Linked DNA regions of Homo sapiens. The protein of the gene in region 1 interacts with the protein of each later gene in a pairwise test. Each region holds a gene or a part of one and is shown on either strand. Other genes may lie near its edges. The genes, in order: CCDC90B, MOB2, TSC22D1 and TK1.

Region 1 (3,819 bases):
GCTGTAAAATGAGGATACCATCTACCTAAGAGGAGAGCTGTGAAAATAGGTGAGCACATATATGTTATTTAGCATATTTGCCCTCATATAGTCAATGATAGCTATTTTTTTTCAAAATAGCAATCAGTAGTTTCAGTGATAATGACTACAGCCTTTCCCACTGCCCTTTTTTTAAATATTAAAAAATACTTAAAAAATAAACAAGTGTTACATATCCAAATTCTTCAAGTTTGACAACATTATAAGCTTTTAATTGTTTTTCCAATAGGTGAGGGTTTTTCCTGACTCTTGCCAAGTCCTTACATACTCTTGCCTGGCCTATTTTGTCACCAAAGCAGTATGGATAGGCAGGTTAGGATCTACACTGTGGCTATAAACATGGTGAAAGTAGCTAATCCTTGTGGAGGCTTCTTACCACTCATAGAAAATGCCTAAAAGGTGTATTACGCTCACTCAGTATGAATGCAGTATTTTCAGCATACCCATAATTAAATATTTAAAATATTAAAAAGTTTGGATTAAGGTCAACTGAGATTTATGAGTATCATTTATTCCACAGGCGTTTAACAAGTACCTCACATGTGTCTAGAGGCCTTCTGAGAACTTGTAGTTTAGTGTAGGAAAAAGATACGTATAATTGCTGTTTCATAGTGAAGTGCAAGTGCTGGAATAGAGGTATAGTTTTAAGGCATATAGAAACACAATCCTCTCATCCTTATTTCATATATTTCCATCACTGAAACAAAAATTTACCTGAACCCCAGAACCACCATCAAAATGAAGTTTCATGGAAAGGATATAGGATCTAAAAGTAATGGGGACAGGGTATGGTATGCATATTTCTATTCTTCTGTTATTGGATACAAAGCACTTTGTTTGCTAAACCCCTACAATGAGAAAGAACGCAGATCTATTTAATATTTAGTGGCTGTATAACCTGGGAATAAGTATATTTATTTGTTGGGGCTTGAGAAGGTCCAATAAATGGCATACCTCCTTTCCATTCTGGGTTGTGAATATAACTAAGATGAAGAATGAATAAACTAATATAGAGGCCTAAAAAACACCTTTATTTGCTGATAAAACTATTGGAGAAGTTTTTTTTTAGGAGACAGGGTCTCATGTGTTGCCAGGCTGGAGTGCAGTGACTATTTATAGGTATGATCATGGTACACTTTAGCCTTGATGAACTCCTTGGCTCAAGCAATCCTGCTGCCGCAGCCTCCCAAGCAGCTAGGACTATAGATGTGTGCCACTGTGCTCAGCAAGAGAATATGGGTTTCATCTTAAGGCCAGTAAGCTTCTTATCACTGAACTCTAGAACTGGACAGATTTACCCTGTCTCAAGCATTGCTCTACTGGGCCAGGCCTCATCCTGCAGAGGCAGAGCCTGATCCCATAGAAGCAGAACAGAATGAATGTCTCTTCAGATGGGCTGGTCCCAAACAGGAGTGGGGAGGAAGTGGGCTAATTGCACCTTGTTTCTCCTTCCAGATTTACAATTGGGCAAGTCACTTTACCTAGGGCAGAGTGGATAAGGGGATGAAGAGTGACGACAGTGTTATGCTACTGGAGCTTCCTTCACATGGAGGAAAGACGCATTCCCTCTTAATATTTTAGAATATTTTAAATCTTAACAAACCAATAATTTACTTGTTTATGTCTCTCTCCTTAAGATTGTCAATTCAATGAGAATGAAACCATGTTCATCTCTGTGCACACAGGGACTAGCATGCTGTTTGGCATATAGCAGGCAGTCATATTGGTTAACTGAACAAATGCAGTATACTTTGTTACAGTGGACTTTAATATATATGGTAACTTATTAATTGACTCAGTGAAAATTAATCTATAATATACTAAGAACTCTCTTAGGCAATAGAGATAAAAATGAATCAGAATGTAACAGGATAATGTCAAGGTTTTTCTTTTGAAAACAAACCAGCAGTTAGATTTTTGAGGAAAATATAGTTGGAAAGCCTGACTCTCACTCACTGGACCATATGGACCAATCTCTTGACTGCTCTATACTGCAGATTCCCTGTTTATAGCTAAACAAATGACAAGGCTATTTTGAATAATGATTGTCAAACTTTTATAGCTATTACCAAGGCATTATGAACTCAAAATGTTTACTTTCTGGTCTTGTCTTCTTGATCTGGGTAAGACTGAAGAACTAAGATGAAAAGGATATTTTAAAATTTCTTTGAAATTACATATGATTTACTAATAGATATTACTTTGTAAGAAAAAATATATCTAATAACAAAACAAAATACGAATTTAAATTTTCCTATGAGTTTCTTGAGAGTAGGTACTAGATATCAATGTTTGCTGAATTGAAGTCATTAAGAAAAGCTTTGTTTTATGTAATAAATTTAAGATGGGTTAACTTAAACTACATTAAGAAGCAGGGATAAACTGGTTTTTGAGTATCAAATATTTAAAAAATACATGTAATAATCAGAGCTCAATATTTAGCAACTCTACAGATTTCATATTAAGTGTTGTAATTTGCACTAAAGCACACATTTATTTATTTAGGTAATGGAGTCTTGCTCTGTCACCCAGGCTGGAGTGCAGTGGTGCTATCTCGGCTCACTGCAAGATTCTCCTGCCTCAGCCTCCCGAGTAGCTGGAATTACAGGCATGTGCCACCATGCCTGGCTAATTTTTGTATTTTTAGCAGAGACGGGGTTTCACCATGTTGGCCAGGCTGGTCTAGAACTCCTGACCTCAAGTGATCCACCCGCCTCAGCCTCCCAAAGTGCTGAGATTACAGGTGTGAGCCACCGCGCCTGGCCTATCATTTTAAAATTTATTGTTTTAGTTCATTACCAAAAAGAAATCAATCTCCAACTATATGGTAAGTCACTTTGAAAACCCACACAACTTTGTTGTAATAATCTTTCATTTTATAGAAAAATGTAATTATGCAATGGTTATCAGGAAAGTTAATTCAGTAATAAATATGTAGGCTAGGGAATGGTTTACAAATATTCAACCAATACCCACAAAATCCTGTATGATTTACACAACTGTTCAAGCAAACATAAGAAAACTCTGGTTCAATTTCTATTAACTATCAAAAGGACAAAATGCTCTTCTATCTCAAACCAGGTCTGAGTGACAGCTTTTCAATATAATAAAGACACACACCTGCACTCACACACACACAATAAAGACACAGTATCTCTTCTCATTCTAAAACACTTCCTCTTTTAGTCCGTATACACTTCGAATAATCTTGTGTAGTAAATTTTTGCTGCAACTGACAATGTTCAAAGTAAATCTCTCCCGGTTTGGTGTTCTAAGAAGCCAACAGCCACAGCAGGATGAGCATTAATACTACTTCCAGAATCTATAAAATCCCAATGCTATTGCCAGGCAAGTAAACACCGAAGCTGTGAAAAGAAGAAACTGTGTTATAGGTCTTGTATCTGTAATTATTTTGCAGAGATAAAGAGAATAATGTTATCTTTAAGTGAAGAGCAAAAAACAGGAAATCCAACCAATTTTCTATCCTATGTTTTTTATTCCCTAGACAATTAAGTATGAAAGACATTCTTAAGGGCAGCCTTAATGCCTAATTCTTCTTAAAAGCACCTGTATATTAAAATGTAAATTATGTCATTTAGAAACCTATAACCTGTATTTAAAATCATTAACGCTAGCATTATTGACTACTTTAAATAATTATAAGCTCTAATTTCAGATCTCATGATAAATGAAATCTTTCTTATATTAAAAAATTACGTAGTTAGGCTAGTAAAATATACATATATCTGTGAGAAGAGAATTTTAATTGCCTTTTCAGTA
Region 2 (7,032 bases), about 82 Mb from region 1:
TTCTGACATGCTGTATTTTCCTGTGTACAGTTTGTTAAAGTTTTTTTGTTGAGGCATCCTCTCGGACCCATGGACTACTCAGAATTGTATTAGTCTGCAAGTGTTTGGAGACTTTCCTGTTCTCTGTTACTGATTTCTAATTTAACCCCACCATGGTCAGAAAACTTACTTCGTATGGTTTTGATTTTTTAAAATTTGTTAAGGGCTCTTTTGTGACAGGTATGCTCCATCTTGGTGGCTAATCTTTGTGAAGTTGAAAAGATGGGTGTTCTGCTGTTGAGGCTGCAGTGCATGTGTCATTTCAATCCAACCCACGGGTGGGGTCATCGGGCTCCGTGCTCTCGCTGACTGTCTATGAGGCTCCATCACTGAGGAGAGGGCTGCAATCCCCGGCGATCATGTGATTTCTACACAGGCCGTCCGTTTGCTTTGTGTGGAAAGCCCTGTTGTCTGGCGCACACACATTTATGGCAGGATTTCTTCAAGAGCTGCTCCTTTTCTAATTAGATAACCTTCTTATTCCTGGTCACTTCCTTCCTCGGAGTCTCCTTTGGCACTGACATAGCCACTTCCGCTTCCTTCTGATGGGTGTTTTCTCAGCACATCTTGTCCTCTTACTTCTCACCCGCCTGCACCACAGCACCTAGAGTGGTGTGACACACAGGGTGCTTATGCCCCACATTCCTATGTTGAAAGCTTAACCCCAGACGCAAGGGTATCTGGAGATGGGGCCTTTGGGAGGCGATGAGGTTGCAAGGGTAGAACGCTCATGAACAGAACTGGTGGCTCCGTCGCCCTGCCTTCCTTCCAGCAAGAAGGTGCTGTCTGTGGACCAGGAAAGGGACCCTCACCAGACACTGAATCTGGCTAATCAGATCCAGTGACGTGGTCAGTGCCCCCTTCCTGGTCCACAGTGGATCTTCACCTTGGACTTTCAGCTTCCAGAACCGCAAGAAATAAGATTCTGTTGTTCACAAGCCACCTAGCCTATCATGTTTCGTGACAGCATCCCGAATGAAATACAACAAATGAGCTTCTTGTAAACACCAGAGAGTTGGTTATTTTAAAAATACATTCTCATAAGCTGCCCAGTCCCGTCTGTTCATCTGTTAGCATTTAGGTTTTCCACTATTTGCTGTTTGTTGCCTCTGTTTCTCATTCCTTATGGTATTTCTTCTTTCCTGCTTTCTCTTGGGCCACTGAAATGTTTTTGTATTTCATTTAAATTTACCTATTCTGATTCTGACTGCGTCTCTTCACATAAGCTCTGCAAGGCCTGCTCAAAGGGCTGTAACACGCAACTCAACCCCACATGCTCTCCATGGCACCCACACATGTGCTTCCACTGGAGCATAGCAGCTCTCTTGCCCACAGCCCCACCGCCGCCAGGCCCCACAGCCGCCACAGCCCCACCGCCACCACAGGCCCCACGGCCGCCCTGGAAATGGCACTGCACAGGCCCCACGGCCGCCCTGGGAACGGCACTGCACAGGCACTGCCGGACACTACTCTTGTCTTCTTGCACCATCACTGGCGTCTCCACAAACACTCAGTGGGAGGAGGCCCTCCTGTTGGGAGAACTCTGCAGGGAGCCTCTGGAACAGGTCTGCTGGCTGTGAGGGCTCTTGGTTTTGAGTGACTTTGGACACTGACTGGATGTGGAATTCTGGGATGACCTTTCTTTTCTCCCAGCACTGGAAGATGTGTGGGGCTTCCTTCTTCCTTCTGGCCTCCTGGGTTTCTAAAAGTGCCACGGTCATTCACTGCGGCATCTGTTGTCAGTACCAGGCCACCGCCGTCTGACTGCTGACAGAGGATGGCTGCCAAGGGCTTTTTCTTTGCCCCCAGTTCTCAGCATTTGGTTGCATGCATCTGCACGTGTCTGTGAGCCTTATTTGGGGTTTGCTTAGCTTCTTAAGTCTGCAGGTTTGTGTCTTTGTGGGAAGTTCTCAGCCATTATTGCTGCAATGTGTTTCCGGCCCCGCCCCCTTTCTCGTCTCCCTAGGAGTCAGACATCAGCCTTTTTGGGACTGTCCTACAGGCCCTAGCAGGGAGGAGACGCGCCTCAATCCCAGAGCCCTCACACGACCCAGGCAGACTTGCTGGTCTTTTGGGTGGCAAGTGGCCCTGAGGCCCTCTGAGAAGTCTCCATGTTTCTCTTAGTTTGAGTGGATTTCTGTCCCTTGGTTTGAAAGGATTCCTGGAAAGGCATTACATGCAATTAATTCACACACATCTACTACCACCATGATGCCAGCTCCAGATGAGAAGGACCAAGAGGCAAATCTGGGTGGCCTAGGCCCTCCAAGGGGACATAGGTCTGCCCAACACCACATCCTACACTCCTCCAAGGACCCCTTTTCCAAACCAACCCAGTACCACAGAACATGCAGGAGCAGAGCCTCTGGGAAGGGTGCCAGGCCCCGTCTGCCCAGGAGCAGAGGCGCTGAGCCAGCACTTGGCCACAGGTGGCTCCAGAGCCACAGTGGACACAAGGCTCTCGAGTAGCTCTCGGGTGCTGCCCTGCCACCTCAGGACCCATCTCCATGCCTGATCCATGGAGGCCACCGCCGTCTCACATTGAGCTTGCTCCCCTCAAAGCCATAAGCACTGTCCCCATCTTCCTGGGCCATGCCTGGCTGTGACACCTCATTTTCCTGGGGAATTAAGACAGTGAAGCCAGCTGTTGTCTGTACCTGCCCCGGTGTCACCCATAACCAAACCAAGCTGTGACCCATCATGGCCATGAGGGCAGGGCCCAGCAGGACTGAAGCCAAGGGGACGCCTGCCAGCTGCCTGTGCAGAAGCTCCCCTTGGCTTCTTGAAGGCAGAACTCAGCTTTGTCTGGGGACCACGTCTCCCTGTGCCAGGGCCAGGAAAGCCATGTCTGTGGGCAGGATGACTTTCAGGACGCACTCACAGGCACACATTCTGTCCCTGACCTGTGTGCACTGACAACAACGGGACATCAGGGAAAAGCTTCCGCCCTCCTCAGCCGCACATGTCCCAGGCTAAGCCCAGCAGACCCAGCCTCCTCCTGCCTGCAGCCTCCAAGGCTGCTTTCAGCAACCCAGGCCTGGCGGCGCTCCTTCCCATGCTACGCAAGTGAGGTGCTCAGGGCCACTAACGGACACCCATTTACTGAGGAAATCAGGGTGCAGTGCTTCCAGGAGAGAGCTACCAGCACCAGGCATGTTGGATGGTCACGGAGAAGGTAACTGAGCCCCCATGAAATGAATGGCCGAGCAAGGACCTGTGGCCTGCCCAGCCCAGCCCTCACTGTCCCATCCAGAGCTGTCACGGGAGCCAGCGGAGAAGGGCTCTCTGCAATCTTAGGGCATTCCTTCTGGAAACGTCTCTGTCCCTAGAAACATAGCCCATCAACCCCCACCAGCTCCTGCACCTTCTGGGCCCCACTGGGGACCTGGGTAGCTGGGCCACTGGCCCAGCCTGTGGCCTTTCCACAGGAAGGTGGATGTTGTGGAAGGCCTGTGCCAAGACTTCTCAGGGTCTCCAGGTGAGAACGGAATCTGAGAGGACAGGAGCCTGGGGCAGCGGGGGCTCAGAGCCCCACCGAGTCTCCCAAGAGAAAGTGGGCTGTAGCCAGGCAGCACTCACGTGTTGCACACGGCCATCGTCTGACACGTCTCTCCTGTGCAGAACTCGGAGATGGTGCTATACTGCAGGTTGATGTGGTGGAAAAACGTCGTGGCTGGAAGAGAAGAGAAGGAGCCAGATGTGAAAAACGCCAGAGCTGAGCCGCCCCGTCCACCCCTGCTTCCAGCAACAGGTGCAGGAGCTCGGCTGGGTGAGCTCTGCCCGTCCACGGGCCACATTCTCCCCTCGCGGCAGGGGGCTGCTGAGCACCAGCCGTGGGGGTCCCCCTTGAGGAGGGGCTTCGAGGAGGAGCAGGGAGGAGGGAGGGGGCCCGCCCCCAGGCCCCCGCGCACTGTTGCTGGCCAGCCACTCGTTAAGGTCAATCTCGCGGGGCAGCACCACCAGCTCCTTGAACTGGAAGTCGGTGATCCTGGCCTTGGTGTGCTCAGGCTCCAGGTAGGCCTTCCTCTCCTCCGCAGCGGGCTTCTTGCCATTAGGCTTGGCTTTGGACTTCCTGCCAAGAGAGGAGACGCGGTGTGGTCACTACACGCCCATCAGACCCAGGGTCTGCCCGGGGGGTCAGTTGTGGCCAGCGCAGGTGTAGAGGGAGCTGCCCGAGCCCATCGGGGCGACACTGCCTCCCTGCCAGGCTCAAAGGACACCAACGGGACACCAACGGTGAGGCTGCTCCGCAGAGGGGCCAGTGGAGCTGCCTTGCGTGGCACCTCCTGGGAAGAAGGGCTGGCGCTCCCACTTGCCACACGGGCCCCTGCACGGAGGGCATCCTCACCCCTCACCAAGTCCTCCAACCAGGGAGGGGCCCAGGGTTTAGGGCCCCCAGCGCCCACCTTCCAGTTTTCCAGTGCTCTTGGAAGGAAAGGAGAAGCAAACCCTCTCACTCCTGGCTTCTTTTGAGTTGGCCAGCCTGTCCCTGCCCCTGCCGCTGGTGGCCCCGGTGAAAACATACCACAGGCCTTGTGCAGGGCACCTGCCTTCCTGGCCAGCCTGAGAGCACGGGGCCCCTGGCATCAGGCGGCAGCCTGGCCTGCAGCTCCAGTATCCCTGTTGTCCACCAGGCCTGGGGAGGCCACAGGGTGATGAGGATGGGGGCCAAAGGTCTTTGTGGCAACCTGACCCTGTCCTTATTTTTTTTCTTTCTTGTTTTGAAAAGTTGCTAATGGTTTATTTAAGAGAAAGAGAAAGGAAAAATGCTCCCTGAATGCCAGGGAAATGTTTCCCTTTCAGCTTCTCACAGCAGATCTTCGCCTTAAAAGGAGACCAGCGCAGGCCTCTGGGGGCAGTGCTGGGAGTAGCCAGAGCCAGGCAGGGAGCAGGGGCAGGAGCAGGGGCAGGGGCAGGGGCAGGGGCAGGGAGGGGCAGGGGCAGGGGCAGGGAGGGGCAGGGGCAGGGCCCCTGGGCCCTGGCACTCCCACTCTGCCATCTCTCCAGAGCACAGGGCGTGGGGTCTGAGGAAGAGGAAGCACAGGTGTGGATGGGCCACATGCAGCGTGGGCACTTGGGGTCCTCACAGTACAGGGGTGGGACAGACAGGGTGAGCTTCCGTGTAGCCTGCAGCCCCTCGCCCCAGCACAGCGAGGCACCCAGACTCCACACCAGCCTGTGCCAGGCCATGCCCAGCGTGTCCACCACAGGGAAGGCTCTCCCCATGACGCTGGGCCTGGCCCTGACCACCGGCAGGTGGGCCTGCACCTCCCTGCCCTGTGCTCTCACAGCACAGCACACCACACCCCACCCGGGCAGCTACAGCCTGGGCTCGGCCTTCCCATTTGGAGGGGTGGGTTGCAGTGGCCCAGGCTGCCAAGCGGGCTACAAGCCGTCTCCCTGCTCTGTGTCTTAGGAGCTGTGTCAACTGGCAAGCTCCAGGTGGCAGTTACCTGGTGGTCGGTCACGCAGGGCTGCCAGCAGGAGCAGCTGTCAGCGCGCTCACTCTCAGGGTGTGCCCCAGGGCCCACTCAGGGAGGCTGCCCTACTGGCAGTTCCTGCCCCCTTGCCAGCCTTCCAGGCTGGGGCTACCTTCCACCTCCGGTCCTCAGAGAGGGCTGGGCAGGGGCAGAACCTGGAGACCTGGCTTCCCTCTCCCAGGCTCTGGCTGTGGTCAGGAGGTAGTGAGCAGCCGCCACTCCGGCACTGGCACCTCAGCCTCCCTGCCTCTTCCCGTCCACACCTGCTCTCCTAGAACACAGAAGAAAAGTACGCACGAGGCCCTCCAGGCTGGGCCTCCCCGAGCTGCTCCCCCAGTCTCACCCTGTCCCCAGCACCCAGGGCTGGCCGGGCCCCGGAGCTTAGTGCACTGTGAGACAAGCCTCCTGCAAGCCTACCTTCTTTGGACCGGGTCACTCATTCCCATGGGGCAGGTGGACGGGCACTGGCCCAAAGGTAGTAGGACCAAGGGGACGCGCAGGACATGGCCTCTGCTCCAGGAACGGCTGTGCGGGCACCAACAGAGGGACTTCCATGGGAAAGCCCCGAACGCCTGGCAGCACCCACGTCTCCCTGACCTCAAGTGCCCTCCTTCCCAGAAGGGCAGGCTCTCAGCGAAGGCCCAGGCCTGGGCAGGAAGCAGTCACTCTGAGGCAGCCCATTGCTCGGTCCAAGCCAGCGGCAGCTACCGAGGAGGCCTCAGAGCACACGACACCTCCATGGCACTCTTCTCGTCCTTAGTCATTCTTGGCTTTGCCCAGTGGAGAAAACACCTCTGCGGCGCCCCCCGCAGGCTCACAGGCTCTGAAACAGGCTCTGTGCCGTCCAGGCCCAGAGGTCTGCCCAGTCACTGCCTCAGTGGCCCAGCTGCCCCTCACCCAGGGAAGTGCCGAGGCCCTGCGCCCTGCTCCCAGCTCCCCCTGTGCTGCTGGCTAGGAGCCCCGGGGCACAGAAAGACCAAGTCCTTCGATGTGGAGGGAGGACTGTGGGAGCAGGCCCCGGCCGCAGGCAGGACAGAGATGGCGCTGAAGGGACTGGGGAGTGGACCCTGGACCTCAGCCCACCCACAGGGCTTCCGTGACCACTTGGAAGAAGCAGAAGGGCAGATGCTGTGTGCACAGCCCCCAAAACAAAGTCCCTCACACTATTCCAACAGGTGGGCTCTGAGCCTGGGTCCTGCCTGGCAGGCACCATGCACTTAGGAGGGCCGGGCCAGATGGAACCACCTCCTTCCTGCCTCCCACACACTCACCAGCCTCACCTCCCTCCTCCCTGCTCTAGATGACCTGTCCTGCCTGCCACAGGGGTCTGCACCCTGTTTGTGGGCACCAGCTGCTGCTCTGCCAACTTGCCCATCTTACACCAGGCCTAGCAAACTTCTCCTGGTCCTTTAAGAGCCTGTCAAATGCCACCCTCCCCATTCTCGCCAGTGGTACCCATGACGTGCCAGTCGGCCTCCTTGGCACCCAGCACGTAACTGATCCCTACTGGGAA
Region 3 (7,465 bases), on another chromosome or scaffold:
ATCCCAGCACTTTGGGAGGCTGAGGTGCATGTATCACCTGAGGTCAGGAGTTCGAGACCAGCCTGGCCAACATGGTAAAACCCCGTCTCTACTAAAAATACAAAAATTAGCCGGGTGTGGTAGCACATGCCTGTAATCCCAGCTACTCGGGAGGCTGAGGCAGGAGAATCGCTGGAACCCGGGAGGCGGAGGTTGCAGTGAGCTGAGATTGTGCCATTTTACAGCCTGGGAGACAGAGCATGACTGTGTCTCAAAAAACATCAACAACAAAAAAGTAATTCAGAGGTACAGCTTCAGAATGAAAACAGCTAAAATTCGATCTTTCAAAAGGCAAAGGATAGCTCTAAGTACTTGGTTTAAAGGATTTAATGACTTTATTATACATAGCAGTCGGCATTTAATGTTTATATAATAAAAATCCAGACCTTTTTAATTAAAAGATGATAGTATAACAAAATCTGGCTCTTGAGGTGCCTTCTCCTTGTTTCAACGTATTTGTGTTCATATATTGCTGTCGTAAGAATTTTGGAGGGGGAGAGACCCAGATTTTTGAAACTCAGATTTCCCTAACTGTAGAGTTGCCCTTTTTATTTTTTATTTTTTATTTTTATTTTTTTGAGACGGAGTCTCGCTCTGTCGCCCAGGCTGGAGTGTAGTGGCCTGATCTCGGCTCACTGCAAGCTCCGCCTCCCAGGTTCACGACATTCCCCTGCCTCAGCTTCTCACGTAGCTGGGACTACAGGCACCTGCCACCACGCCCAGCTAATTTTTCGTATTTTTAGTAGAGATGGGGTTTCACTGCGTTAGCCAGAATGGTCTTGATCTCCTCACCTCGTGATCCGCCCGCCTCAGCCTCCTAAAGTGCTGGGATTATAGGCACGAGCCACCGCGCCCGGCTGACTTGCTCTTTATATCTTAGTGGGACTTGATGCAGCCTAAGCAGGAGTTTGAAAGTGATATGGCAGGCAAAAATTAATACACTTCAAAAGATCTTATTTTCTTACGTCTTAAATTCTGGATTTTTTTTTAAACCTTTATTTTAAAGGGAATAACACCCCAACCCTTCCTCCCCCATCAAAACAGCTCAAACAGTACCCTTTGCTACTGGTCATTAGAACAAGTATCTGCTTCCAGAGGGGCTATCTCAACAGCTCTTTTACTCTATCAGCTTTGGGTAAGACTTTAATATATGTGTTTATTAAGCGTCAAAGCATATCAGCACAATCATGGTGAGTTATTTAGGTGGCCCAAAGGGTATACAGCTGCTGTTTGGGGTAATTTAAAACTTTGACTTAAAAAACAAAACAAAACAAAACAAAAAACCTTTGACTTAAGGCTACATTTTGAGAGATCAAGAGCATTTTCTTTCATACTGCAGTCCAAAGAAAGGACATTCCACCCATCTACATTCCATTGCAGTTTCAATCGGTTAGGGTAGTTTCTATTTTCCATTCAAAAACTATTGAAAAAGAATGTCAAATTTGCATTTCAACAATGGATGGCAGCGATTAACCAGGCATATTACTTGCAACAAAAGCTCAAAAAGTAAAAAAGAAATTATTTTTGTGAAAACACAAATAGCCATAGTTCTATAAAAACAACCAATCACATATTAATATCATAGAACAAGTAGTCTTCTCAAACATATTTGATGTTTATTACTGTATCACTTTGAATATTTGCGAGAGCCTATTTACTTCTAGCAGAGGTTTACATTAGCAATATAAAGTAATAAATAAATAAATAAATAAATAAATAAATAAATGAAGTCCGGGTTTTTCTTTTCAGTGTGGGAGACCCCACATAAAGCAACAATGTATCATAGCTTTGACACTGGATAAATGGGATGTTAAGAGTGCACTTCTATTCAATAACATGCAAATGGTGACATAATTCACTTTTTGAAAGCTTCCCCTTGGAACAAGGGGAAGAGTTCAGAGAAAACTAAAGGTAAAAAGTTGAACTGACAACTAGAGGTGTATCAAAACTGCAAATGACAATCGTTTTTGCTTTAACAATCTTCTGAAATAGGAATGTAAATCCTTGAGACTTCCTGAATCAGAGGTCTAACCATAAGCGTTGATTCCCCTAACAACCTAAATTTAACAAAATGAAAATTCCTCCCTACAGTTTTTCGGCTTGCTTTATCATTTTTAAATTCCTGGGAAAGACTTACATTCTCGATTATTGGTAAGAAACGCTTAGAACTAGGTTTTGACATGAAATACCAAGAAAGTAACCGCCAGTAAATTGCCCCCAATCAAACCTAACATTGCTTCTGTAGAACTACATTTGGACCCATGAAATGTAACGTGTGTGTGTGTGTGTATTTTAAAACTGGAATTTCGGATGGCTTTTTCTTTTCTAGCCCTAAAAGGCATTCTTATCATTTGTGTTGCTCACATGTCCGGACCACCTTGCCTCCTGAGTCAAACCAATGGGGGATATAGCCAGGACGATGAACGAAAAAGGCGTCGCTGCTTGGAGACACCTGTTGAGGTCAGTCGATTACAGGGCCGGCCTGCTTCTGTCCTCCAGTTAAGGATGGATTGCAACCACTCCTCGTTAGAGAAGAGCCTAGCCCAGAGGAGCTCAGGCAGTTAACTGGAAACAGCTGCAACATCTGCCCGGCCGCCTCGCCCCTGCCCGTGGAAGGGCGAGGGGACCGCATGGCAGCAACTGCACTGCACAAAAGACAACACCTATCACCGGGAGCCACCGGCCTTCCATAGACCCCACAGCTCCCGGCCCTAGGGCATCCCCCGAGGAGGCAAGGGCCGGGGGCGAGCCCAGGTGCGGCGAGGGGGAGGAGGTTTCCGCCACGCGCCAGGGAAGAAAGCCTGACTCATGTCGTGGCAGCGGCAGCAGCCGCGGCGGCGGGCTCCTGGGAACTGAAACTCGTGATGCTGTTGCTGCGGAGAAAAGCCTCATTACCCATTCCGCAGGCGGGGGACACCACCCAAGGCGCGCACACCAAGCGCCGGCGCTCCCGCCGCCTCCGCCGGCCCTTCCGCGCCGCGCCCCCTCCTCTGCCGCGTGCCCGCGCGCGCCGGCCGCGAGTGTGAAAAGAGCGGACACACCTAACCTGGGCGCGCGGCAGGCGCGCACCCTGCCCGCCCCCACCGGGCCGAATCACGCAGTCCGACCCGGATTCGCTCCTTCGGCCGGAATTCCCCACCCCCACTATCCCCTCCGGCTCCACCACTCCCGGCTTCGGCGCCTCTGCCAGCCTTCGGTAATTTCCGTCGGGAGACCTGGCGCTCGCCTAGGCCCGAAGACCCGCCGCCTCCTGCCCCGCCAGACCCGGCTTTATGTCTGCGGCGCCGAGGCGCATGCGCAGACGCCATCTTCCCTCCTCCTCCTCCGCCTGCCCCCTCCCCCCAGCCACCACCGCCTCCTCTCGCCGGCGGTCGCCCCTCCTCCTCCTGCGCTCCGCGCTGGTCCCTCCCCTCCCGATGCCGCGAGAGACTGGGGGATACGGTGGAGCCGGGGGAGCCGAAGAAGAGCACTAGTAACAACCACCACAGCCCCCTCCCCGCCCGACACCCTCCCTCGGCACCCACTCACTCCCCCGCCCCGTTTGCCGACACCGACCAACCCCACCTCGTTCCTTTGAACGGCGTCGGCTGCAGTCGCTGCACCAGCCCGTCTGGCCACCAACGCCGCGGAGAAAGGAGCCGCCGCCGCCTGCGGCCCTCTCCCGCCCGGTCGCGGGAGCAGCGGGGTGAGGAAGAGCCGGCTGCGGAGGAAGAGGATAAGAGAGGGTCGCACCCTCCGCCCTAGCGCACGTCCCGCCGCCCTCCGGAGAGGCTCGGGTGCCGGCCCCTTCCTCCCCGAGGACGTGTGCCGAGTCGAGGCGCCTGCCCTGAGGGAGGAAAATGCTCGGGCTCCATGGCTGCCAGTGATGGAGCGGTCCCTGGGCTCCCGCTGCCACCGCCGCCGCCGCGCCCCGGCCGTGCTCCGCGAGGACCCGGCGTCTCTGCGCGCCCGCCCGCGCCTCGTTGCTGGGCTCACCGTACCGGGCGCCTCGCCGCCGCCCCGCTCGCAGCCGCGTCGCCCCGGCCCCAGCCGCGGCCAGCGTTTCCTCACCGAGCAGCCGCCGCGAGCCCAGGGGGTTTGAAAGGGTCTGCGGGGCGCGGGGGGAGGGCCGAGCGGGGCCGGGAGGGGAGGTTTGAGCGACACTGAGCTCGGGGCTCGCTGGCGGCGGCGGCGGCCCCGGGGGTGGCGAGGGGAAGGCGACATTTGCTTGGCGCTGCCTCCGTGCAGAGCGGCCGGGAGGGCTTTGCAGCGGCCGCCGACGCGGCGGGAGGAGGGGGCTGAGGCGGCTTCGGAGTTGGCCGGAGAAGGTGGGCATTTCTCGCTTTTCCTCCCCTTCCTGCGCTCTCCCCCTCCCTCCTGCCCCGCACCCCACGTGAAGCAGAATATAAAGGGGGGTGTGAGGCTAGAGGGGAAAGTGAATGGCGAAGGACTGAAGGGATCCCCCCTTCGGGTCCCCGGCCGCCCTGTTCACCCTCGTTCATCCTCCTTTCCGAAGCTCGCTCTCGAAGGCAGGAGCGACCGGCGCCTTTGGCTGAGGAGGAGGAGAAGGAGGAATCGCGCCAGGCGGAGCGTCAGGTCCCGTTTTCCTCTCCGGCGTCTCCAATACAAAGATTACGGTGCAGAAGGAAATTGCACTCGTCTCCTCCGCGCCCCCGGTACCCAACACAATGCACCAGCCGCCTGAGTCCACCGCCGCGGCCGCCGCCGCTGCAGACATTAGCGCTAGGAAGATGGCGCACCCGGCAATGTTCCCTCGAAGGGGCAGCGGTAGTGGCAGCGCCTCTGCTCTCAATGCAGCAGGTACCGGCGTCGGTAGTAATGCCACATCTTCCGAGGATTTTCCGCCTCCGTCGCTGCTTCAGCCGCCGCCCCCTGCAGCATCTTCTACGTCGGGACCACAGCCTCCGCCTCCACAAAGCCTGAACCTCCTTTCGCAGGCTCAGCTGCAGGCACAGCCTCTTGCGCCAGGCGGAACTCAAATGAAAAAGAAAAGTGGCTTCCAGATAACTAGCGTTACTCCTGCTCAGATCTCCGCTAGTATCAGCTCTAACAACAGTATAGCAGAGGACACTGAGAGCTATGATGATCTGGATGAATCTCACACGGAAGATCTCTCTTCTTCGGAGATCCTTGATGTGTCACTTTCCAGGGCTACTGACTTAGGGGAGCCCGAACGCAGCTCCTCAGAAGAGACCCTAAATAACTTCCAGGAAGCCGAGACACCTGGGGCAGTCTCTCCCAACCAGCCCCACCTTCCTCAGCCTCATTTGCCTCACCTTCCACAACAGAATGTTGTGATCAATGGGAATGCTCATCCACACCACCTCCATCACCACCATCAGATTCATCATGGGCACCACCTCCAACATGGTCACCACCATCCATCTCATGTTGCTGTGGCCAGTGCATCCATTACTGGTGGGCCACCCTCAAGCCCAGTATCTAGAAAACTCTCTACAACTGGAAGCTCTGACAGTATCACACCAGTTGCACCAACTTCTGCTGTATCATCCAGTGGTTCACCTGCATCTGTAATGACTAATATGCGTGCTCCAAGTACTACAGGTGGAATAGGTATAAATTCTGTTACTGGCACTAGTACAGTAAATAATGTTAACATTACTGCTGTGGGTAGTTTTAATCCTAATGTGACAAGCAGCATGCTTGGTAATGTTAATATAAGTACAAGCAATATTCCTAGTGCTGCTGGTGTGAGTGTTGGGCCTGGAGTTACCAGTGGTGTTAATGTGAATATCTTGAGTGGCATGGGCAATGGTACTATTTCTTCCTCTGCTGCTGTTAGCAGTGTTCCTAATGCAGCTGCAGGGATGACTGGGGGATCGGTTTCAAGTCAGCAGCAACAACCAACAGTTAACACTTCGAGGTTCAGAGTTGTGAAGTTAGATTCTAGTTCTGAGCCCTTTAAAAAAGGTAGATGGACTTGCACTGAGTTCTATGAAAAAGAAAATGCTGTACCTGCTACAGAAGGTGTGCTGATAAATAAAGTGGTGGAGACTGTAAAGCAAAATCCGATAGAAGTGACTTCTGAAAGGGAGAGCACTAGTGGGAGTTCAGTGAGCAGTAGTGTCAGCACACTGAGTCACTATACAGAGAGTGTGGGAAGTGGAGAGATGGGAGCCCCTACTGTGGTGGTGCAGCAGCAGCAGCAGCAACAACAACAACAACAGCAACAACCAGCTCTCCAAGGTGTGACCCTCCAACAGATGGATTTTGGTAGCACTGGTCCACAGAGTATTCCAGCAGTTAGTATACCACAGAGTATTTCTCAGTCACAGATCTCACAAGTACAATTACAGTCTCAAGAACTGAGCTATCAGCAAAAGCAAGGTCTTCAGCCAGTACCTCTGCAAGCCACTATGAGTGCTGCAACTGGTATCCAGCCATCGCCTGTAAATGTGGTTGGTGTAACTTCAGCTTTAGGTCAGCAGCCTTCCATTTCCAGTTTGGCTCAACCCCAGCTACCATATTCTCAGGCGGCTCCTCCAGTGCAAACTCCCCTTCCAGGGGCACCACCACCCCAACAGTTACAGTATGGACAACAGCAACCAATGGTTTCTACACAGATGGCCCCAGGCCATGTCAAATCAGTGACTCAAAATCCTGCTTCAGAGTATGTACAACAGCAGCCAATTCTTCAAACAGCAATGTCCTCCGGACAGCCCAGTTCTGCAGGAGTAGGAGCAGGAACAACAGTGATTCCTGTGGCTCAGCCACAGGGTATCCAGCTGCCAGTGCAGCCCACAGCAGTCCCAGCACAACCTGCAGGGGCATCTGTCCAGCCTGTTGGCCAGGCTCCGGCAGCAGTGTCTGCTGTACCTACTGGCAGTCAGATTGCAAATATTGGTCAGCAAGCAAACATACCTACTGCAGTGCAGCAGCCCTCTACCCAGGTTCCACCTTCAGTTATTCAGCAGGGTGCTCCTCCATCTTCGCAAGTGGTTCCACCTGCTCAAACTGGGATTATTCATCAGGGAGTTCAAACTAGTGCTCCAAGCCTTCCTCAACAATTGGTTATTGCATCCCAAAGTTCCTTGTTAACTGTGCCTCCCCAGCCACAAGGAGTAGAACCAGTAGCTCAAGGAATTGTTTCACAGCAGTTGCCTGCAGTTAGTTCTTTGCCCTCTGCTAGTAGTATTTCTGTTACAAGTCAGGTTAGTTCAACTGGTCCTTCTGGAATGCCTTCTGCCCCAACAAACTTGGTTCCACCACAAAATATAGCACAAACCCCTGCTACCCAAAATGGTAATTTGGTTCAAAGTGTTAGTCAACCTCCCTTGATAGCAACTAATACAAATTTGCCTTTGGCACAACAGATACCACTAAGTTCTACCCAGTTCTCCGCACAATCATTAGCTCAGGCAATTGGAAGCCAAATTGAAGATGCCAGGCGTGCAGCGGAGCCCTC
Region 4 (7,311 bases), on another chromosome or scaffold:
CAACAGCTGGAACGAAGTGACCTCCTCTGCTTTCCCTGTCCCCACCAGGTGTAACACCACCCTGTGCCGTGGACATCGCATCTTAGGAATGAGGAAGCAAATTTGGAAAAGTAAATGACCTACATCAGACAGCATGGTCACGAAGTGCGGTTAAATTCCCACATGCAACTCCAAGCCCCAAGCACCCTCCACTCCACCAGCATCTGGCTTCAGGAGCCCCTCAGCTCCCACCGAAGGCCACACGCCGGGTGGATCTGTTCTCTGCACAGCCATAGCAACTCTCGGATACAGCTCCCAGCCAGGGCTCTGAGGCTGAAGCCCTATAATGTGTGGCACAGCATGGCTTTGCCACTGGGTGCCCAGGTGGACAAGTCCAGAGGACCAAGCAAAGCGTCTCAGGCTCAGAAACATCAGGCCCACATCTGCTGCCAAGGAAGTGAATTTAACTCCCAAACTGAGGTTGCAGGCGGAAATGTCCAGCGAGCTCAAACAGCTACACATAAAACAGGGAAGCGTGAAGGCTGCCAGGTGACGGGGGAGCCAGCCAACAACGGACAACTAAAAAATTAAACAAAAATCAACGTGCAGGCCAAACCAAACCAGTCTGCAGCCTGTGTGAAGCTGAAACCCTACGGCAGAGTTTCTGAACACTGGCAGGCTCCTGACATTTGGGGCCAGCTCGTTCTTGCATGGGGGCCGTCCTCTGCACCATAGGACCCTTAGCAGCAGTGTCCCTGATTTCTACACATTAAAGCCCAAAAGCATCCCCTCCCCCCTCCAGTTGCAACAACTAGAAATGTCTTCAAACATTGTCAAATGGACCCTGGCGGCAAAATCACCCTCAGTGGAGAACCACTGGCTCCAGCCCAGGGAGTGGAGAGTGTGCGCTACCTTGCCAAGCACCTTGGAAAGTGTGCTGATTTGAATCATTCAATGTTCAAATGATTAACCATCCCCATTAAAGAGAGTCCTAACAGTGTGTCCTGTGCCTTGTGATTTTCCACTGGACAGGACTGCAGGGGGCAGGGACTGACCGGTCATGTGTGCAGAAGCTGCTGCTGTAGCGAGTGTCTTTGGCATACTTGATCACCAGGCACTTGTACTGAGCAATCTGGAAGCGACGGACGCGTCTCATCAACTCTGTGCTGCAAGAGGAGAGAGGGTCAGGTGAGGTCCACGGCGGGAGGAGTGGGAGAAGGAGACCCCTCCCCAACAAGCCTGGCTCCTCATTGTCCCTAGTGGTATGCAGACTGAGCCCACCACAGCCAGAAAAGAGCAGGGCAGAGCAGGCAGGGTATAATATCCCTACAAAGAGGGTTGGAAGTCAGAATTCTCTATGGGGAAGAGGTCCAGGAATGGTACTCAGGTGGTCCCAGGAAGTGTGGGAGGAGTAACCTTCTCCAAGATGTAGTGGGGAAGGCAGAAGCAAAGGCTACATGTAGAGGGAACCTGCGACTGCATTCCAAAGTAACCTCATCCCAGAGTTGTTCCCAGAGTTCAGAGTTTTTCTTTCTTTCTTTTTGGGGTGGAGTCTCGCTCTGTTGCCTAGGTTAGAGTGCAGTGGAGCGATCTCAGCTCACTGCAACCCCTGCCTTCCGGGTTCAAGAGATTCTCCTGCCTCAACCTCCCGAGTAGCTGGGATTACAGGAGGCTGCCACCATGCCCAGATAATTTTTGGTTTTTTTTTTCAGTAGAGATGGGGTTTTACCACGTTGACCAGGGTGGTCTCAAACTCCTAACCTCAAGTGATCAACGCACCTCAGCCTTCCAAAGCGCTGGGATTAAAGGCGTGGGCCACCACACCTGGCATACAGCTTTTCTAAATTAATTTCAGAAAGTCTTTGTGTGCAGCGTCAAAAGCACTTGCTTCTGGGTCCAAGAAGTCCAACTCTGAGCCACATCTTCCTGAGCAAGGGGTTTGAGCTGAAGTGATCCCCAGGGCCATAAAAGAATGTTGGGGCAGGGCATGGTGGCTAACATCTGTAATCCCAGCACTTTGGGATGCTGAAGTAGGAGGATTGCTTGAGACCAGGAGTTCAAGACCAGCTTGGGCAACATAGCAAGACCCCAGCTCTATAAAAATAAAATAAAATTAGCTGGGTGGAGGCGGGGGGGTGCACGCCTGTAGTCCCAGCTACTTGGGAGGCTGAGGTGAGAGAATTGCTTGAGCCCAGGAGTTTGAGACCAGCCTGGGCAACATAGCAAGATCCTACCTCTAGAAGAACAAAAACAAAACAAAAAGAATGGTGCGTGGGTAGTTTACTCAAGAAACTCACTAGCCCCACCCGGGTCAGGGAATGGTTCTATCACCTCAGGAGAGCAGAGGCTCCACGGCTTCAGACTCCTTGGTTTAGAAAGCGACTACGTTTCCTTGGCCTTAGAAGGAAACAGCCACATTGAATAGGGGTGTACAAAAAGGCCTGGCCTACAGGGGACACAACTGGTTGCCACCTTCTCAGAGGACTTGGTGGGGAAGACAGCTAAGCTGTAAGCAGCTGTCACCAGCTCCAGGAGGGAGTGGCGTCCACACAGGACGAGGGGCTTGGCCTGGGCAGAAGAGGGCAGAGACTTCCTCCTGGACTGAATTCAAGGGAGGAGCACCCCAGGCGGGAGCTGTAGGAGGCTGTGCTGGTCCTTCTAGGGGAAGGGAAGGGGAGGGAAGGGAAGGGGAGGGGAGGGGAGGGGAGGGAAGGGGAGGGGAGGGACGGGACAAGGGGTCCCCGGAGAAGAGGAAGGAGCTCCACCCCAGCCCCGCGAAGCCATTACCTTTTTCCTGAGAACATCGGCCCGAGAATCACCTAGGAGAGAAGGTGAGGTCATTTGAGGGCCCGCCCTGCGCGGATGCCTGGACACAGGCTATCACCACGACCACCTCATCCCCAGCCACGCGCAGGGCTGGCCCCCGCACCTGGATCTGCCCCCGGGTCTTGCTGGGGGAGCCAGGCAGCACAGTGGGCAGGTTAATGCAGCTCATTGCGCCTCCGGGAAGTTCACGAACCCGAGTACTCTCCAAGGCCGTCCCGCAGTAAGCCCCTGGTTCCCGCGCCGACCGCTTTAAACCACGGCGTGCTGGCCAATCACGAGCCGGCCCCGCCGCCATGGGGCCAATCAGCGCCCGGCCGCTGACCTGGCGGGAGATTTGGCCGCAGCCCGCCCCCTCGTGGGAGGAATCCGGGACGTGCGCCCAGGGACTGGGAGGGCCTGGAAATCAGGGCGATGGACGTGGCTGATCGGGGTGGGGCCTGGTCTGAGCCCCGCCTCGGTCCGCCCACCAAGTTTAAAGGGGCGGAGCGAGGCGGGGCTCTGGCCATATAAACAGAGGGACGCACGCCCATGCGGCTGTAGACGCCATGATGGATGTGTCTGGTGTGGGTTTCCCAAGCAAGGTTCCTTGGAAGAAGATGTCTGCAGAGGTAGGTGGATTGCAGGGAGGGACTAAGGGGCTGGGGCGGAGTTAGCTCATTTATTAGATTGGAATTCCAAGAAGGAAGCTTAGAAGCCGTCTAGAGCACTCCTGTGGGCATGCAGAGCGCCTAGTGCGTGCCAGGTCCCCAGTGCTTGAGCACCATGGTGTATTTTACCTTCTCCTAAGGATTTTTGTTAACCTGGTTTTCAGGATAAAGAAAATTGAAGTCCTGACTATGCTAATAATATCCGTAGACCCTGCCAGGCGTGGCGGCTCACACCTGTAATCCTAGCACTTTTGGCGGATCACGAGGTCAGGAGTTCGAGACCAGCCTGGCCAACATGGTGAAACCCCGTTTCTACTAAAAATACAAAAATTAGCCGGGCGTGGTGATGTACCTCTGTAATCCCAGCTACTGGGGAGGCTGAGACAGGAGAATCGCTTGAACCCAGGAGGTGGAGGTTGCAGTGAGCCGAGATCATGCCATTTGTACTCCAGCCTGGAAGGCTGGGCGATAGACCAAGACTTAGTCTCAAAAAAAAAAAAAAAAAAAAAAAAAAAAATCCATAGACCCGCAGGAGGTTAGGGGACAAAGTTCTGGACCTTGATCTGAGGTTACACAATGTTTTTGGGTCTGTGCTTATGTGGCACAGGCTGAAGGATTCAGAACAGCTGGTATTTACATTGGGGTTGTGAAGGTTAGAAACATACAGGCCGGGTGCGGTGGCTCAAAAAAAAAAAGAAAGAAAGAAAAGAAACCCATTGTATAATCATGATCATAAATAATAGCAACAAAGATGGTGGTAGTGATCACAGAGTGTGCCAGGTGTGGCTGTAAGGATCCTACAGGTAATAACCTTTCCAGGTACAGATTGGACAGATCCAAGGACCTCTGACAAAGAGCTCCTTCACTGGGAGGAAGAAGCAACCCACACTGACTGGCTTGCTTTATTTTACTCGCATGCTTTATCTCTTTTAACCTTGTGATTTGGATACATGCCTTCTTTTTTTGAGACACAGTCTCGCTCAGTCACCCAGGCTGGAGTGCAGTGGCATGATCTCGGCTCACTGCAACCTCTACCTCCCGGGTTCAAGTGATTCTCCTGCCTCAGCCTCCCGAGTGGCTGGGATTACAGGCACACTGTAGCTGGTACTACATGCCTGGCTAATTTTTTTTTTTTTTCTTTTGAGACAGAGTCTCGCTCTATCGCCCAGGCTGGAGTGCAGTGGCGCGATCTGGGCTCACTGCAACCTCTTCTTCCAGGGTTCACGCCATTCTCCGGCCTCAGCCTCCTGAGTAGCTGGGACTACATGCGCCCGCAACCATGCCCGGCTAATTTTTTTGTATTTTTAGTAGAGATGGGGTTTCACTGTGTTAGCCAGGATGGTCTCCAACTCCTGACCTCATGATCCGCCCCCCTTGGCCTCCCAAAGTGCTGGGTTTACAGGCATGAGCCACTGCGCCTGGCCAATTTTTGTATTTTTAATAGAGATGGGGTTTCGCCATGTTGGACAGACTGGTCTTGAACTCCTGGCCTCAAGTGATCCACCCGCCTCGGCCTCCCAAAGTGCTGAGATTACAGGTGTGAGCCACTGTGCCGGGCCTGGATAGATACCTTCTACCAGTCAGGAAACTGAATCTCAGAGACTAAGTAACTTGTTGAGGATAAAACAGTAAGTAAGTGAGGGAGGTCAGATGGCATTTGACCTCAGGCCTTGCCATGAGGCTGCCCTGACTTCCCATTTCTCATGATGGTTTTGAGCCCTTTCTTCAAAATCTGGTTCCTTGTTACTTTTTTTTTTTTTTTTTTTTGAGATGGAGTCTCGCTGTTGTCACCCAGGCTAGAGTGCAATGGTGGGATCTCAGCTCGCTGCAACCTCCACCTCCCGAGTTCCAGCGATTCTCCTGCCTCAGCCTCCCGAGTAGCTGAGATTACGGGCGCCCGCCACCATGCCCAGCTAATTTTTGTATTTTTAGTAGAGACGGAGTTTCACCATGTTGGCCAGGATGGTCTCGAACTCCTGACCTCAGGTGATTCACCCGCCTCAGCCTCCCAAAGTGCTGGGATTACAGGTGTGAGCCACCACGCCCAGTGTTTTGTTTTTTTTTTTTTGAAACAGGGTTTTGCTCTCTCAGGCTGGAGTGCAATGGCGCAATCTTGGCTCACTACAATCTCTGCTTCCTGGGCTCAAGCGATTCTCCTGCCTTAGCCTCCCGAATAGCTAGGACTACAGGTGTCCACCACCATGCCCGGTTGATTTTTCATATTTTTCGTAGAGATAGTGTTTCGCCATATTGCCCAGACTGGTCTGGAACTCCTGGACTCAAGTGATCTGCCTATCTTGGCCTCCCAAAGTGCTGGGATTACAGGCGAGAGCCACCGTGTCCAGCATTTTCTGTTGGTTTTTTTTTTTTTTTTTTTGAGATGGGGTCTCACTCTGTCGCCCAGGCTGGAGTGCAGTAGCATGATCCCGGCTCACTGCAACCTCTGCCTCCCTGGTTCAAGCTATTCTCCTGCTTCAGCCTCCTGAGTAGCTGGGATTACAGGCGCGCGTCACCATGCCTGGTTAATTTTTGTATTTTTAGTAGAAATGGGGTTTCATCATGTTGGTCAGGCTGATCTTGAACTCCTGACCTCGTGATCCCGCCTCCGCCTCCCAAAGTGCTGGGATTACAGGCGTGAGCCACCGCGCCCAGCCTCTGTTTTTTTTTTTCTTTTTTTAATTCTCCAAACTGCCTCAGAATGGTTCCTTGTTACTTTCTGCATAAAGTGTGAAGGTGTTAGCCCGACATTCACCGCCCCTCCTCCTCCAGCCCAGCCTCCCAGCCTCACCTCTGTGTGTCAGCCATAGGGCCTGCCAGCATTTGCAAACTGACCTTTCATTCCTTCCTCCTCACCTCTGTGCCTTTGACTGTGCAGTGACCTCCTGTGGTCAGAATCGCACCCTCTCAGCGCAGATCAGCTCCTCCTTTTTTAATTTTTTTGAGGTAGAGTCTTGCTCTGTCGCTAGGCTGGAGTGCAGTGGTGCGATCTCGGCTCACTGCAACCTCCACCTCCCAGGCTTAAGCAATTCTCCTGCCTCAGCCTCCCAAGTAGCTGGGATTACAGGTGCACACCACCACGCTCGGCTAGTTTTTGTTTTCAGTAGAGATGGGGTTTTGCCATGTTGGCCAGGCTGGTCTCAAACTTCTGACTTCAAGTGATCCACCTGCCTCAGGCTCCCAAAGTGCTAGGATTACAGGCGTGAGCCACCGGGCCACCTGGCCTCCCCTGGTCGTAACTGCTGTGGGAGTGGTGCCCATGATGGCATTAACTGAATTCGTTTGGGGGACCTCATCTCCCCTTAAGGCTGCCAGCTGGCTAAAGGCACAGCGGTCGCTGGTATACCTCTAGACCATGGATCTGAGGGCATCTTGGAGACCCTGGGATACTGGGGCGAGGGCTTCTAAGGCAGAGAGGAGCAGCCGGGCATGGGCGAGGGGGAGGGGCACACTCTGTTGAGAAGGAAAGTCTTACGGAGCCTCATGTTTGTGCCCTGCAGGAGCTGGAGAATCAGTACTGTCCCAGCCGATGGGTTGTCCGACTGGGAGCAGAGGAAGCCTTGAGGACCTACTCACAGATAGGAATTGAAGGTACTAGTGTGACCTCTCCGTGGCCGCATTGGGTGTCCTTAAGCATGTGGCAGTGATTCAGAATGCTGGGGGTTGGGGGGGCTGTGCTGCACCACCTGGGCCTCGAGGGGCATTTCCCAAACACCAGGCACTTTATAAACCTCCCTGCTCAGGGGCAGGTGCCCAGGACCCCTTGCTGCAGGGACTACTGGAGGCAGGAGAGGTCCGGGGGAGGTCCACGGCTCAGTCGACCATGCCTGGCCTTTCTTGCTCAGCCATCCATACCCAGGCC

What was found.
Region 2: the proteins of CCDC90B (region 1) and MOB2 interact in binary tests that used the Homo sapiens proteins (3 or more experiments, as listed by UniProt).
Region 3: the proteins of CCDC90B (region 1) and TSC22D1 interact in a two-hybrid assay, tested with the Homo sapiens proteins (2 studies listed by BioGRID and IntAct).
Region 4: the proteins of CCDC90B (region 1) and TK1 interact in a two-hybrid assay, tested with the Homo sapiens proteins (2 studies listed by BioGRID and IntAct).

Annotation. Positions count from the first base shown.
Region 1 is NC_000011.10:83,258,563-83,262,381, forward strand, and holds the end of CCDC90B (coiled-coil domain-containing protein 90B, mitochondrial isoform 1 precursor), read right to left. Parts: exon of another isoform or gene 3,405-3,819; coding exon 3,349-3,404; 3' UTR 1,547-3,348; coding exon of another isoform or gene 1,495-1,546; 3' UTR 519-1,494; downstream 1-518. Other genes in the region: ANKRD42 (ankyrin repeat domain-containing protein 42), read left to right, coding at 1,495-1,546.
Region 2 is NC_000011.10:1,476,775-1,483,806, forward strand, and holds part of MOB2 (MOB kinase activator 2), read right to left. Parts: intron 4,113-7,032; coding exon of another isoform or gene 4,112-4,112; coding exon 3,951-4,111; intron 3,713-3,950; coding exon 3,619-3,712; intron 1-3,618. UniProt on the Homo sapiens protein: Stimulates the autophosphorylation and kinase activity of STK38 and STK38L.
Region 3 is NC_000013.11:44,573,316-44,580,780, reverse strand, and holds the start of TSC22D1 (TSC22 domain family protein 1), read left to right. Parts: upstream 1-4,450; 5' UTR 4,451-4,706; coding exon 4,707-7,465. UniProt on the Homo sapiens protein: Transcriptional repressor. Acts on the C-type natriuretic peptide (CNP) promoter. Acts to promote CASP3-mediated apoptosis.
Region 4 is NC_000017.11:78,184,021-78,191,331, forward strand, and holds the start of TK1 (thymidine kinase, cytosolic), read right to left. Parts: upstream 3,033-7,311; 5' UTR 2,975-3,032; coding exon 2,909-2,974; intron 2,799-2,908; coding exon 2,767-2,798; intron 1,146-2,766; coding exon 1,035-1,145; intron 1-1,034. Other genes in the region: AFMID (kynurenine formamidase), read left to right, coding at 3,351-3,413, 6,950-7,040. UniProt on the Homo sapiens protein: Cell-cycle-regulated enzyme of importance in nucleotide metabolism. Catalyzes the first enzymatic step in the salvage pathway converting thymidine into thymidine monophosphate.